Regions from separate parts of the Homo sapiens genome. Here region 1 is linked to region 2. Evidence: fine-mapped expression QTL. Tissue or cell type: whole blood. Region 2 holds a variant in brackets; the other region holds the start of a gene. All regions are shown on one strand. Distances are from middle to middle.

Evidence for each region. PIP is the estimated chance that this variant, and not a neighbour inherited with it, causes the effect.
Region 1: NFIB starts here. The variant in region 2 is fine-mapped to the expression of NFIB in whole blood (INTERVAL, PIP 0.98).

What each region holds. Positions count from the first base shown.
Region 1 is chr9:14,309,614-14,318,035 of GRCh38, forward strand. NFIB (nuclear factor I B) reads right to left here and starts at 4,528. Exons shown (of 11, transcript NM_001190737.2): 1 at 3,869-4,528. The coding sequence starts at 3,898. It overlaps NFIB-AS1 (NFIB antisense RNA 1), which reads left to right and starts at 7,474. Exons shown (of 2, transcript NR_186536.1): 1 at 7,474-7,732. RefSeq lists a silencer at 3,937-4,231.
Region 2 is chr9:14,083,858-14,092,279 of GRCh38, forward strand. NFIB (nuclear factor I B) reads right to left here. Exons shown (of 11, transcript NM_001190737.2): 11 at 1-4,469. The coding sequence ends at 4,452. Among named protein-coding and RNA genes, the nearest start is that of LINC00583, 160 kb to the left of the region's middle. The variant C/T (reference allele first, on the strand shown) is at 3,913.

The DNA of each region.
Region 1 (8,422 bases), 230 kb after region 2:
CAGCCCTGCTCACAGCAACCACATCCCATGATAAGACCTCCCTATCTCCATACACTTTCTGATGCCATGCTTTTAGCTTTCACTGTAACTACAAAAACTTTGTTTATCCCCTTTAGGAATATATGCAAAAGGAAAGCCTGCTCAAGGAAATGTGGACTTAAATGTGCTTTGGAAACTCACTTCCTATAATCTTTTACTACGATTTATTGATATGACTAAAAAACACACATATATGCACTCACAAAACTAAAACCTTGAGAATGTAAAGAGCACATGAGGTGGAGTGGGTGGGCTCTGTCTCACTCATTTTACCCTTGCCATGCTTTTTAAAATGCAATATTATTTTATAAATATTAAGCCATGTGGTAACACGTAAGTACTTACACCTTAAGTACTATGTTCAGTGACATTTCATTTTCTTATAAAGACATCAAACACAGTTTTGATTAAATTTGAGTTTCAATATTTGATTATAAATATAATCTATCACACAAGAAAGCTCAAAATTTTAATGAGTTATTTTAAACAACCAAAATTCAAATTTGAAGGTTGAATTTGAAAATTCTTAGCAAATGCACACAGTTTTTAAACGTTCCTTTGACTTTGCTGTCAATGCTGCCAATATTGTTTTAAAACATGCTCTTTTTTTTGAGAAATAAAAGTAGCAAACTTTCTCAGGCTGCCAGTTTGCCTTATTGATATCGTTCAGGGTTTCACTATTATGTGAATTCAAGTGAAGCACTTATTTGACAAGGGGACATATCCTCCAAAAATGACTGTAAATTGAGGTTTGCTGTAAGTCGCATATATTTCTGTATTAACATGCCTAAATGTCATCTCCCAAGTGTGACTGTTTCCTAATGCTGAGTAACACTAGAGTCTTAAAGATTATGAGTGACATGAATATGGAACATAATAACTGTCCTGATACAAAAATATTTTTTTAAAAGGTGATTAAGGTTTTCAAATATCCTAACTAGTAGTGGATTATTACAATAGCATTAAGCAATCATAAATTCTTTAAAAAAAGCAAAACATATAAGTGATTTAAAACCAAACAACTGTATACAAAGGTAATAGGCAACTTTGCTCTTTCAGAATTTTTAGTAAAATGCATTGATGTTCAGTAATTCTCTTTTAAAACTTCCTTTAGTTGAACTAAATTGACAAAGTAAATAACAAAGTTACCAATTTCAGATATAAAAATAAAGAGTCTTAATTCCACTAGGCATATTTATTTTTCTTCCGTTTCCATGAAAGGGATGGATAATTTAGACCAACATAGAGGTAGAAGAGTAAATACTAGGTGCTCTTGGCGCATTGCTATATAACAACAAATCATGCAAAAAATGTACCTAAAGAACTTAAAAGCAACGAAAGAAAAATATATTTAATGCCATCATGCCAATTGAAAGTTATATTATTAATGGTTTACATTATTTTTAAACATATATTAAATCATATGATAGTTCTTAATTTTTCCTTTATATCTGATTTATACTGGTGTATAAATATTGGTTATTGATATGCTGATTTTGTAGCATACTATTTTGCTAAACATAACATTTAATGGTAGGTCCTTTTAAATTAAGATTTTTTTTCTAAAACCTAGATACCTTATTGCAACAATTGAGATACTTTTAAAAGTTTATAACCAATTAAGAATGATACTCTATTTTGCAATTTACATGTCCTGAGACATGTTTTTCTACAGCTACTAGGCTCTTGTGATACAAAACTACTGATCTGATACAAAAGTGACACTATTAATGTGGCCTCACTTTTATAACACCTATATTACCTGCAAAGTCACATGGAGCTTAGTGAAGTGAAAATTCTTAAGCTGAAATTCCTTCCCTGGTGTAGGCCTTGTTTTAATACATAAGCCTAGATTTATATTATTAAAATAGTAGAGAATATTAGTCATCACAAGTTATTGTTGTTAAGTGTGTATCTCTGAATACTAATGTGATAGCTGAATGATTATGCTGTATATGATCCCAACATTCCCTGTCTCAATGCTGCAATATTATCTTTAACTTACACAAATTAAGATAAAACTAGTGACTTTTCAATACATATTTGGAGGATACTAAAAATGCAATGTAATTGCTAGCAATGTTTCTGAAAAGCTGATGTTAGAAATATAGAGAAATGCACAATTATTCAATCTTTTACAGGTGAGAATAAGTGATGCTATACTCTGTAAGTGAAAATCTTGCTTTGATTTGTTTTATTTGATCACGGTGTAAAAATAATATCAAGTTAACACAGCTTATCAGAAAGAGAAAAATATATCCAGCCGATGGGTAATATTAATGGTAACTTTTACAAGTAAAGGCAATTCGTTATACCTGAAACAGTTTCATCATATTTATTGGCTATTATCATTCATGGCTTTTAAAATACAAATAGCTCAGCAACTCATTTTTCCAGTTTTGTTAAATTAAAGTGCGTGTTTACTTGCTGAAAATAGCCATATCTAAGTTAATCATACTCAGATGCCAAACAAAATATAAACAATAAAAAATGTGTCAGCCAAAAAGCTACAGGACTGTATCCAATCACTGAATAAGCCTTATCATTGTTTTCATCTTCATTCACAATTTATGAATGCCTCAGTCCTTTTGAATCACAATGGCTTCTAATTGTCATACAATTGAAATCTTAATTATTTGTCCATTATAAAAATGCATCATCGTGATATTAGATGTTTTTAAAATTTTAACACGCCCAAGACTGGCTGACACTTCTTTATATGACTAGTTTTCATGGCAATGTCAAAGAAAATAGTTATCAATTACCAATGGTGACACATCTTCCGAAAAGCTGAAATAAGCTGCCCCATACCTTTAGAGGTTTAAAATACTGCCTCAAATAACAGTTCTGGGCTAAGATATTTTAGTTACTTTGTCAGTTGTTAGTTCCCTGGGCAGCGATGAAAACTGCCCCCAGGTAAGTCTGTTGGGTCTCGCCGCTTTTCTATTTGACCGTCTGGCTTAAAGTGATACAAATCGTGTTTCTAAAAAGTATAAAACCAGTGTTTTATTTCATAACATTATTCCTAAGGTCTTAGGACAATTCTCAAAGTCGAAAAAAATGACCTTACTTCTACCAGCATTACTTAAAATGCCTTACGAGCTACGCCCAAATATCGTCAAATGAACAGGTTTCCACAAAAGGAACACGTTCTAAAAACTCCTTAACAATCACCAAGACCAACTAACTCGTGTCAACGTAAATACTGCCTTTGTGGTGCGGTCACTAGAAACCCCAAAGTGCAGCAGGTCACTATGGACCAGGGTTTCAGATCCCCAAATAAAGCAAAGGAATGGGTCCCCGGACCACAACCTCCGACTCGATTCGTCGCCCGCCCACCGCCTGCAGCGCAGTCCAGCGGCGCCCACACAGACTCGTGCTACAGTCCCCTCGCCCAAGTTCACTGGCTGTTTTTAAAAGCTTAGTCCCCCGTAAAGTCCTCCAAAGCCCGAGTCCACCTCAACGCGCGAGCTGCTGAGAGGGGCTACGGGCACCCCGGGCGGGGATGCCGCACCACAACGGGCACTTGAGGGGCCGCACGGGGCCTCGCACTTACAGGTCCCGGCCCTGCCCACCCCCCGGCGGCCTTGCCCGGCCCAGCGCCCGCGCTCCGTGCCCAGGGCGCGGGGCTGGGCGCTCGCAGTGGCCGTGGCGAGGGGCCGCTCCCGGCTCCCACGCCGCCCCGCGACGCCCGCTGCAACTCCGGGCCACTTCTCCAAGGGACGGGGATGTGCGGAGGTTAACTCAAGCCGCTAATTGTCCGCAACAAAACAAAACAAAGGCATTTCGGGCCAGAGAGAAAGCTCGAGAAAGCGACCGAGACATGTACCTGAGTGAGACAGATGGGAGAATACATCATGACTTCGCCTTAAAACGCACTTTCCGGGAGATGCCCAAGAAAATCTTCGAGAAGCAAGAATTTCATCTATTCATTTTACAGTCATCTGAGCCCCGCGATGCGATCAATCAGGACGGGGCTCTGCGCTGGATCACCGCAACTTCACAACAAACCCAGTCCTCCTTAAATAGCCAAAGATTCAAGTTCACTCGGCGTGCTAGATTTCCAGGGGTGAAATCCAATCTACACTTTTAACCCTCTTGCAGTCCGAGCGCGCTGGCCGTGCTTGCCGAGGCCGCCGCCGCCGCCGGTGTTGGCTGCTTTTCGCCTGGGTTTGGGGATTTGTTTTCTATTTTGCAGTTGTTGTTGTTGTTGGGGTGTAGGGGGTGCGCGAAGGTTCGGTGTGGGTTGGATTGGGGTGGTGGTTGGTGGTAAAATGCTTTTTCAAAAAAGGCGGGGAGGGGGGCGCGGGAGGGCGCAGGAGGGCGAGCGGGCGGGCGGGAGGGAGAGCGGGGAGAATGTGTCACCGCGCTGGGAAAGTTCAAGGTTACAGCCCCAAGCACTGCGGCAGGATCCCGGAGTGGTGATCGCAGGCGAAACTTTGCCGCGAGCCGACCATGTGTGTGCGCGAGGGGCAGCGTGAGCGAGTGCGCGCGGGTGGCGGGGCGCGCGCGGGAGAGGGCCGGGGTGGGGGCGGGGTGGGATGGGGGAGAAGGGAGAGGCCGGGGTGAGGGAGGGGGCGCGAGCGCTGATCTCTGGGGCGGAAGAGGCTCGCGGCGCGTGGTCCCCGGCAGCAGCAGCCGCCGCCGCCCGCGCCGGGTCTTCGGCGCCCGGCCGCCCGCCCGCCCGCCTCGCCCCGCGTCTGACCCGGCCGAGCGTGGAGGCTGCTGTTGCCGCCGCTGCCCAGAGCCCAGGGGTATCAAAACGATCTCCTGAAAAATTCCAAACGATAAATCCCGCTCTCCCGCTCGGCTCCAAACTCCTCTCTTTTCTGCTCTAGGCTCTTTTTTTTCCCTCCCTCTCTTGCTTTCTTTCGTTGCAAAACTTGGAAGTTGAAAAATTCACCGGTTCCACCCTCTGGACCCCGCTCGAGCTCTCTCCAAATCAGACTTAAGGATTGTTTTATTATTTAATTACACAATCATCGCTTTACTCCTCCTCCTGCAAACGCGCATTCCTTTTGCACCAGCCTCTCCACACCCCCCGCCCCCCCACCTTCCTCCTCCTCCTCCTTCTCCTTCTCTCCCCCCACCTCTCCCTCATTTGTTAAAGGTATCCTACCGGTGCTACAGAACCATGACTTTTTTTTTTTTTCCAAAATAGCTCTTCTTTCCGCTGCCCTCCCCACACCAGCACACACATACACACCCCCGAAAACCCGCCCTGGAAGAGGTATTTCGGTGCTCGCTGCGGACTCTTTTAAGCCGCGGGAACATCCGAGTGGGAGAAGCACCGAAACCGTCTGAGCCCGAGAAAGGAACGAGTGGAAAATTCCCTCACACCCAGGCCGCCCCCAGGCCGGGGCTGGGGCGCGGACACTCGCACCCGGGGCGGGCTCAGTCCGCGGAGCCTGCGGCTGCCGGGAAAAGGGGGAGGCCGAGCAGGCGGGGACCTGAGCGAACTTGGGCTCAAGTAGTTGGGGCGCGCCGGCGTGGACCAGGGGGGTGCGGCGCCCAGCCCCCGACGGCCCCGCCCGGAGCCCGGGTTCGCGGATAGGGAGGGGGTGCGGGTTCGTCCCGGGTCTGCCCACCAGGGGCCCGCACCCGAGGCAGTCGCGGCGCGCGGCGCTTCGCCGCGGTTTGCCGCCCTCCCCGGGGGTGCCCCGTGCACGTGGCCTCGCTCTGAGCGGGAGGACCGGGCCGAGCCGCCGCCGCCGCCTCTTGCTCCCTCCACCTCCTCCCCGCGCCCGGCTTCGCTCTCCTCCTCCTCCTCCTGCAGCCCCGCTGGCTGGCTCCCAATCCCCACCCCCCGGGGCCCGGGGCGCCGGCGGAAAGCGTCTCCCTACCCGCCCGGGTGCAGGCGGGGCGGGGCCGCGGCGCGCCCGGGGCTGCGGGGCGGGCCGGCGGGCGCGCGCGCGCCGCTGCAGCCCTCCAGAGGCTGCGGGCCCTGAGCCGCTCGGCGCCCGCGCCGGCTCCCCACCGCGGCGCTGCCCCGCCCCCACCCCGTCGCCCGTGCAGGCTCCGAGTGAATGAACTTGATTCCAGGGATTTTGAAGAAGGCGGTTCGCCTTGCACCCTTTCTGCACCCCCCGCCCACATACACACACCGCCCCCCAAATCCAGTTTTCTGCTTGGGGTGGATGGGGACGAGGGGGAAGCAAAGGCCTCCCAGACAATGGAGGGAGGAAAAGTGAGCGCCTGGGGCTCCGAGTCTACCTAGCTGGGGGATCCGGGGGGCGCTGGGGCTACCGGGTCCTCGCGGGCCCATCCCCAGGGCGGGGCCGCCCCGCTTCCACGGGTACTGCTGGGGCGTTTCGAGGCTCGCCCCCGATTCCCCGGTCCTCTTTCCACCGCTTCCCAGCTCGTGATCTGTCCCCTCAACTTTAGCCCCTCTCACTCCCTCTGGTTTCTGTCCACCGTCCCCTCTTCCCTCCCCCAGCGGACCTGGAGGAACCAGTGACTTTTTCCTTCACCAAGTGGGAGTTATCCACATCAAGCATTTCACAACGACACATCAAGAAAAGTAGGCAGGTTCAAGTCAACCATGAAATGGTCACTTTTTAACCCCGTCCTGTCCTCATTAGGGAAATGCTCAAACACAGTCCGTTTTCAAAGAGCGCTCTTAATGAGGCGAGCTTGCCAAGTTTACCAGCTGCAGCCCCCGTAAACCCAGAGCCCAAAGAAGAAAGGCGCTGGGGGGTGGGGAGTTCGGGAGGCCGGGGACGGGGGCTGCTGGGACTAGGAAGACAGGTAAAGTCGGGGAGATCGCGCGGACCCCTGCGAGTTAACCCTTTCGGCCACACGCCCTGGGAGCGGCCTCCCTGCGGTCCCCGCCCCTGCCCCGGCAAATCCTGGAGTCAGCGTTCTGACAACGTTAATTTCCTTTGTGCGGGTCATTTCTTCTTTTTGAAAAGCTGGGATAAAGTTGGCAGTCTTTATGGATGAAAGAAATGAGGTGACAGGGTTAATCCAAGTAAATACTCATTTCTCTCAGAAATTTTAGGCAACCTCATCTTAGATTAAACACACACAGACACACACACACAGAGAAACCACCAGCACGAAAGCATCACTTTGTATTGCACATTACACTGCATCCCCTTTCTCACCCTCACCAGATTCTGAGGGGAGGGGGTGGGGAAGCTCTACTGATAATACCAGCTTTAACTACTGCAGTTTCCCTTTGAACAAATATTCAATTTAACTGGAGTTAATTTACCATAAAAGACATTCCCCTTGGCAGGAATGCACTAATATCCTTGAACACACCTCTTTGAATGCCTGGACTCTCATAGAAGCCATTATTTCGGGGTCTCTTTAAAAATCGAGCGCCCATCTCTCCTTCTCTCCCTCCCTCCCTTCTTCCCTCCCTCCTCACCACACCACCCCCAGTGAAATCCTGGCACCCAGAGAGCACTCCTTTCAGCCTGAGAGCCCAGAACCAGCCGTTGTCCCCTGGCAAAAAGAGGCCCAGGGCTGAGCCCTGGGCAAGTGTCTCCCGACATCGCTACCCCTCCTCCCTTTATTAGTTTCCCTTTCCCAACAGAAACCATTTCCTTCTGCCACCAAAACTAGGTTGCATCCAAAAGTTTTTCACAAGCTTAAAAAAGAAAAACGAAAAATTGACAAGTATTACACAGAAGAGCCCACAAAAGCTTCAGCAACACCAAGGGCGAAGAAGCAGCGTCAGATCCAGGTAAGACCCCAGAGAAGTGAAGACGTCTGGGGCCTCCCAGGCCCATCACTTAGGGGTTCAAATCTCTTTCAATTGCCCCACGTTTGAGGGTGCTTATGGCTGGTTGCACTTTGATGACCATAGAGGATGCTTGATAGTTTTTGGTTTTGATTTGTTTCCCAGAAAAAGGAAAATGAGATAGGAGTATGGTGAGGCGAGGAAAACCAAAAAGGAATGAAGAGTGAGCAACAGAGACTTCCTGAAAAAGAAGGTTTATGGGGGTGCTCAGTTTCTATGGCTTTGACTGTCTTCTCAGGCCTTGCAGCCATGTGGAGAATGGCTGACACCCCCCAAAACACTTCTTCTTGTCCAGCCAATGCCAAGGTCATTGCAGGCCTTCCCTGGAAGAACTCTAGGGAGTTGTTTGGAAAGAGGGACTGGTGGATTTCGGTGCATGGGATGCCTGGCTTCTCTTAACACAACACTTGTCCACCACCTTTGGTTTGAAAATCTCAATCTTTTAAATCCCAGGTAGAAGGAGGAACTGAGAAAGTGCCTGCATTGTATTCACTTTCCATTTTTTCTAGCACGTCTGTGTCGTGGTATTAAGAGTGGAAATATCTCTGAAAAGCTTCTGATAGTATCAAAATGGGCCAAACACTTCTTAAACTTTGGTACTTACCAATCCTAAACTCTTCATCTCTCCCTCCC
Region 2 (8,422 bases):
ACTGTTTTAGTTTTCTGCCTATCCTGAATGCTCTGTGAAACTTAACCTTAAATACCATCACGTAACAATCACAAAAACTTTTGCTAAAGGCCGTATATACTAATAAAAAGACAGTGGTGCTTCGACATTCTGAAATGCTCTGGAAACCAACTTTTCCAATACTAAATACAACAAAATAACCTTCATAAAATATAACTTTTCTCCATTTACACTTTTTTAAAGGATTAGTATCCTATGCTTTTCAAGCACAGGAATCTGTGAAATAACTCCTAACATGGACAGATTTTCTTTTTAATACATAACTTAAGAGACTGGAGAGTTTTAACTCAAGTCCAGTCTCTAAACAAGGAATATTCTTGTTTACTTTAAAAATGGAAACAACATATAGTTCCATTATAATTGTTAAAAAGTTAGCTTTACAAACATGGGAATTTTAATTTAAAAAAAATTCTTAACAAAACTATACAGTGTACAAATTACTGTCTACAAGGTAGGCGGTTCATTAAGAAGACCTTTCGCTCTTCTCGCTACTTGCAGCTTCACAGATTCATTCACATATTTTTTAATGGAGCTGCCCACCCGAACATTACCCGATAACTATATTGCTATAATTAAGATTTTTGCCATGTCTTTATGTACAGTCTCCTTCACTGCCTTTTATTTTTTTCCTTAGACAAGCCTCAAATGCTCACGTCACTCCAGGGGTAACACGCTTCAGAGGCACTGTGAGTGGTGGGTGGCAGGGCAGCACACAAAGGCTGAACAGTGCCACGGAACTGATGGTTGGAGACACCACTCCCTACTCATGCCCTTGGGTGACCTTCGCCATCCTGAAGCTCTGCAGTTCTGGGTAAGGGAGGGGCGTGCAAGACCTGCAAAAGTGGGGCCCTTCGTCAGAATATACTTCCTGGTACACGAGGAGGAGGCCGAAAAGTTGATTTGAGATTTTATATATATAGTAGTACTTTTAATAGTTTTATCTCAAAAAGGAAAGAAGAAAAAATTGATTTGAAATAAAAAAAGCAACACTTGAACTAGGCCTTTGTATTCAAGAGGCAGGCAGGAATACCCACAGTGTGTAACTTGGTTAGCTAGAACTGCTCACTGGCAAAAAAGAGAGCGAGTCTGCCTTTAAAAAATACTGTGTGTCCTGTGAGGTTCATTTGTTCACCTAATAGGTCAAAGATACATGAAGAGCTTGGCTGAGATGATCTGTTTGCTACCAGGGCGAGTATCACAGAAATGATTGGACTTACTTTTGAACTTGCACTGCTAGGATCCCGCTGTGCTGTTCAGCATTTGGGCTATCAAACTGAATGGGCTAATCAAATACAATTCTCCAGCCCATAAGCATTGTTCTAAAGTATTCATTATTAAATGATATGCTGTGAGAACAATTGACAGTTTATTTTATTAGGCCATGGCCTAGGGGAAGGGGGCCAGGGGACTCCTTAAGACAGCCTACCATGTGTCACCAATTCTGAAAGATTTTCCTTCTAGTAATGAATACACTCAATGGGACTGGGCGGTGAGGGAAAGGCAAAATAAAACCAGCCTCCATTCAGCCTCTAGCCCTCAGGGGAAACGAAATCAAATATATAGTTAAGGTACCATTCCTTAAAAAAATCCCATCAGCATCTAATGGGTTTAATTCATCCACAGGAAGATTAATTGCTTAAAATTCTATATTTCCCTTCTGCTCTGGTTCTCAGTTTTAAAAGGGGAGATAAAATGAAAACAGGATTTACTTTTTTGTTCCTTAAAAATTGAACTTTGATTTTAATCTATCAGTCCAAATACATTCAACAATAGCAACCCTCTGTTCAATCTTCTGGATATTAAAAAAAAATCCAAGTGCACTGCCATCCATTTGAAGTAGTAAGTCACAGGTAAATCATATCCTATCATTAATGAAATGAAATGGGGACGAAAAGTGGCAGAAAAGGAATACGGGAGACTCCCTCCAACAGGTCTAATGTGTTTTCTAGGAGAAAGAATATTCATGTGTTAAACTCTCAAAAGTGTTAAACATCCAACATCCCCTATGTGGACATTTCAACAAATATTTTTGCCAAATATGAGACAGGCTCACTCTCCACTGTGGATCTGGAACTTTCAAGAAAAACTATCACCAAGCCAAGTCTGCCTTTTTAAGCCAAGTCTGCCTCCAGGAGAATTTGTTGTGTTTGCTTGTTCTTACTATTGTGTTGTTATGAAAACCAGTAATGAGTTCAGCTTGCAACCCAGGTGGGAAGTTAGAGAGGGGAACCTGTGTAAGTTGAAGTTTGTCACAGTAGGCAGAACAGTCGCTTTGCAGCCCAGGCCCATCTCAGGGTGCACTGCTTCACAGCTACACTGCAAAGTGTTAAAAATCCTCCCACCCACCCCAGAATATATATATATGTATATTAAAAAAAATCCCCTGTCCATCTCTCAGTACACAAAAGGACCTCATCACACTGCAAAAATAGCAGTACCCACTTTGGTCAATTAAAACAAACAAACAAACAAAAAAGCATACATTATTTTTTTTTTAAATCTGTGTACTTACCTATAATAACCAATACAGCTAAAAGCACTACCTACATAGGCAAAACTTGGTATTGCATAATTCGTATAAATTTGAAACCCCTCCCCCCCAAATATTAATTGGAAGATGAAAAACATGAAAGGTTAATAGAAAAAAACACCAAAATACTGAAAATATTGCTGGTCGATTACAATTTTTAAGCGGCAACTATACACAGCCATGATATGCTTTATAAATGTGAGATAAAGGTATAACTGTCTAAAAAATCCATGATGTCACACATTTTTCTTCGTCTGGAGTACAAAATATTTTGTCATAAAAATGGTAAAGATTTAAAATGATAATAAATGCAGCAAAACAAGTGTAGTGATGTCACTTTGTTGTATTTTTTTGTTTTTTTTTTTTTGTTTTTTGTTTTTTAGATTTCAAGGCAAGGCACGTAATGTGGACATTATATCTTCGTGCAAATTAGGATTACTGGAAAGAGTATTTTTAATTAAAATTTTAAGAGACATAGAGGCAAAATGTGTCTGCCCATGCACACTATGGATCTGTCAATACAAGAAATTTGTTGAACAAGGCTAATGTCTGAAAGCACCATGCAAGTTTTCAGCACCCTGATTACATTTGTTTTCTCAAGAGTGCGTTTTTATATCCTACACCCTGGCGTTCCCAGTTTGTAAACTGTAAGCTTTACCCTTGTGACATGGATTTGCCTGCCTCTTTGTCTCTATAATGCAGATTTTATAGAACCTTTTGTACACCCTATGGGTTCTTGATGCAACCAGTAATTTTAAATAAATAAATTCTACCTCCAAGGAGGCTGCAGCTAAACCAACATAAGTGCTGTGTTTTCATTAATTTTATTTTTCTCAAGCACATGATTTGTCTTGATTTAATGCCTTTTTAATGCCCTCAAAAACTGAGGGGAAAATAAATTCGTTCAAAATTATTTTAAATTCTTTTTAATCCCCTCAATTTAGAGTCCAAGGGCTGAAGGACTTATAATCATGATTCCCCTTTAGATATAAATTTATAAATTGCACTTGCCTCTGTTAAGTGTTTCTTTTGTGGGGAAAATATTATATTAATTTTTACTGTTGCATGCAGAGAGAACACTTCACCTACATAGAGGCATTTCTTCCATAGAGCCTTTGTGTTCAAACTGTTTTTTTCCTTTTTTCTTTTTTTCCTTTTTTTTTCATTTTTTCTTTTTTTAAGATTTCAAACTGGGTTACACACTGGAAAAGGCTGGGTTAAGGGCCGAAATTTAATAAATCTGTACTGATAACTAAAGGCTACAGAGATTTCATATATTTTTTTTAACTTTTAGAAATCAGAGTGCTTATAAAATGGCTGGCTCATGGCTCTGTCACCCAGCA[C/T]CTCTGACGCCGCCTCCTAGCCTTCGTTGGTGAGATAACCAGGAATAGTGATTCCATGCGTAAACAACAAGAATACTAAACCAATAAAACTAGCTTATCATGCAAATATTAAGGCATCTAGAAAGTCAGTTAAAATATATTGTCATAGAGACAGAACATCTATTTCCCAGCGGACTTCATGTAACAAAGGCTACGTTGCAGGGGCTGCGATCTACCATCAGTGAAATATCATCGACCCTTTTTATGTCATTACAGTTTCAACCTTAAGGGAATTAGTGATTGTAAGTGCTGCAATTGCTGGTCTATTATCTTCTTTCTTCAGTTTCTTTCCTTTCTGCCTTTGTGTTGTTTTGTCCAGTCTTCCTCTTTTCCTTTTTTTTTATTTAAAAAAAAAATTTCTTAAACTATTGTTGTGTTTCTTTTTCCCTCAGTTGCTTGTTTCTGCTTGAAGGAAAGGTTCTCCAATTATGTTCAAACCGTAATTTTGGACATTGGCCGGTAAGATGGGTGTCCTATTTGACACTTGGAAAGGAACCAAGCTAGCCCAGGTACCAGGACTGTTGAGAGGAGAGAGGCAGCAGGGAGGGAAGAAAAAAGAAAAAAATACAATGTTAAAATCTACAACAATATGAGAAATATAAATTCCAGATGCATCAAATTATTGCTATCCCTATTTTCAAAATTACAGTCTAATATGAGATAAATGTGCCAAATTATACATGTTACACCTATCTAAACTCTATAGTCTATTTTTTAAATGAAAATTAAGACTAAAGTGAGGCAGAAAAATCCAGAGTAAGATATATAAACAATTATTGAATTCTAACCGATTGAGGATATTCTAAAATATTTTACATTAATCAATATAAATGCAATATCATTCTTTTTTGTACAGGAAAAAAAAGAAAAAGAAAAGCAGCAATCTGTTGGTACCAATATACTTTGCCAGTTACATTCTAATCTTATTTTACCTTTAATTCACAAGCAATTCAGTGGTCAGATGGGTTTCAATTTCTTACCTGCCTATTGGGTTGAATACAATTGAAAAGTACGGTGAAAGATATTTCTTTTCTCCTTACAACAGGAAAAAAAACTACATGTTTAAGGTAGGCCCATGCATAACATACAATTTGAAATGCCCAATTATCAAACATACCTTAATCAGAGTTTTTTAGTAAAGACCGAACAAATAAGAATCATAGAACCAAAATGGAACACAGCTTTTTTTGTTCTCTACAGAATACCCATCGTGAGGAAAAACATTTACAGGAGGCCACAAAGGTCTCTGCTTGCACTGATTAGTTCTATAGCTCTCCAGCAGTTTTCTTATTCTAACCCTCTTTAACTTACTTTTAGAGAGAGCCACAGCTTTTCCTTCCAATTCATGGTTCCCTACATTGGCTTGCAACAGAAGCCTGAGCATTTCCTGCTCCTCCCCATCAGTAATGATACCACATTTGAGCTGCTCTGCACTTGAGGAGTTTGGAGTGATAGATGGCGGGTTGGGGGTTGGGGGTGTTGGAGGCAGTAAATGATAAGATTCCAGCCTTACTCTCATCAGTTCAACTTTCGCCTATGCTGAATTACAGGCTGTTAAAAAAAAAAAAAAAAGACTGGAAAACAATTCTCTAATTGCTACTAGCATAATCTCCCTTTAAAAAGTATCATATGGAGGATAAAAAAAATCAGATCTACATATCATGAAACAACTCTACAGCACACATTTTGGGTACACTTAATCTAATGTATTGCCTGTTCCAACACTCAAATCCGAATGAATGTCAGTTAAGTAACAGCTGCATAAATAATCATGAACCAAGAAAACATCAAACTGACAATTCAGTACTCATATTAGTCATGGCCTAGCATGGAAACATACTTTCGAGGTTTTAAATTTCACTGAACATCCTTTGCTTTACTTTTGAAACCATGAAGTGAGATAGCACTATTGTTGTAGCTATCAATCTAGATATGCTCATTTGTTCATATTTGAATTCCAAAAGTACAAAAACCTTTACAGAATATCAACCTAAAGGAACAATTCTGAATTTTTTTTAAAACTTGATACATACTGTTTTTACTCTGGTGATACCTCGATACAAAATGTTGCTTGTTGCTACACATACATATTTCTGAGTTAACATTTCAAAACAATATCACAACGACCATTTGTGCTCAAGGGATTTTATAATTAGACTACAAACTCAATGACAGCAAAGTCCGTCTCTAGTAAAGTACCTAGCACATGGAAGATGCTCAATACCTTTTTAGACAAACAAATCAATTAATTGTTTCAAATCACACCCAGCTATATATTTTCAAAAGCTGTCACCCAAGATTACATATACTCATGAATATGTTGTGATTTGATCCCCTATAAAAAGAAAATAGGTATCTCTGAATTTAAAATTAGATCTACTTAGCATTAACAAAAATTGATTAAGCAGGAATAATCACATTCAAACTAAAAAGACACGTCCTCAAAATCTGATGAAAAATCGTAACTCTTAAGAATACTTGTTATTGAAACTTTTACTAAGCAGCTTAACTGTTTTCACATATTTATCTTCCCACACACATCTTCAACAATTATTTTTGTGCTTTGCACCATTGATTGGGAACAATGTTACATAATGAATCATGAAACTTATTTTACCCTCAACTGTGTTTCCACTGCACTTTGTACATGGTCCTGTTACAGCATTTATTACTTCATAAATATCTCTATCTGGGATTATCTTACTAACTGAAAGGTGAACTTCACAGAGAAAACGACCTAGTCACATCTATCTTTATAGAGTCTGAGCATAGCTGGTGCTATTTCTTAACAAATAAAATAAATTACAAAAATGGTTATACATTATTTTTAACTTGAAGTAAGAAGCATGTACCAAAAGCAAAAGGACTAGGTAAAGCAGATAATCCTTGACAGTAAAATACAATGTCAACAAGCAGCAAATTGCTTTGCAAAATTAACAAGAGTGCCAAATTAAGTGAGCTCAAGAAAGTCATTTGGAGATTGCATGCTTTAGGGATATAAAGTATATTTTAATGATTGAAAATAGATGTGGCTCCTTACATGGACAAGTCTACCAACTAATGGCAGAAAACTCAGGGTTTATTTTGCAATAGCTCTCTTACTCAGTTCTTTAGAAGAGACATATGTCATTATTCTTTGGAAAATGTTCAATAAAAATAAATTGATGCTAGTAACTAACAGGACTCTTGCTGCAGAATGCCTACCAAATTTAATTTAAATGTTTATTTAAATCTTTCAAACCGCCCATCCTACATTATGACCATATCAAAATTGCAGAGTGCAATATATTTGTCAATACTGTTTATGAACCTTTGGGGGAAAATAAATCTCAAACATTAACACTATGCAGACCCCATATATGAGTTTTACAAGTCTCTTATTGCCAATTTAAGTTCAGAACTATAAGGCACAGACATTTTTTAGAGCTATTTTTGGTAGTCCTGTTAAAAAAAAAAACTTGATAAAACTAATTCAATGACTGAGATAACAATGTAAATAAATATATTTAATTAAAGTAATACAGATTATTTAATTTCAAAAATGCAATGTCTAAAATTGCATACTTACTCAGGTAAAAATGTAATAGTGCTTTTTATACATCTAACTCTATATAAAAATCAATAATCACATGTATGGATAAAATAAACACACAAAAACAAATTAGTTACATGTAAAATGCTTAATAGTTTTAATTCATAGTGAGAATTACTATATGGATAATCTTATGTTCATTCCAACTATCTGCATTCCAATAAAAGAAATGAGAATATAACTGAAAGGATTTCAAAATATTCAAGCTCAAATTCAGCTACTTCAGCAATATATCTTTATAAGTGTGCATTTCCTTTGTTTTAATCAAATTTTTCATTACCAAATCACATTTGTTTAGGCAAAGAGAAGATGAGCATAGCTGAAAGTTGAAAGCACATCTTTAGAAAATATAAAGTAGATATAACCATTTAAAAAAGAAAAGATATAATTACTTTGCAAAAAAATCAAGCAGAAAAAAACACAAAAGAATTTGATAGTACCTTAACACAAAGTACAGCTCATCCTAATGACTATTACTATGCATATAATGAGATAGTTCATTATAAAATGAATACATAAGAGCTAAATCAAAATTCCAAAAATAAAATGTTTGATATCATGGATACTATTTTCTTGCTATTTTGACCAAATGTATGACATGGCTCCCCCCAAAAGGGAAGAAGCAAATGAATTATTTAGAGCTTAAGATGCATTACTGGTGATGGTCCTGCTTCATTTTGTTATTGGTAAGACTACCTCTGAAGTACTGTATTTCTTCTAGGTAGCACTGTGGAAGAAAACCTAACTTTATGGCATTTACTTATTGAAAAACTCACCAAATTATGTCATTGCAGAACAGCTAAGGGTAGACAGGGAAGATATAGCAGTTGATGTGGAAAGGAATGTAGACCGCTTAAGCATGCTTCAGGTTGTAGCAAC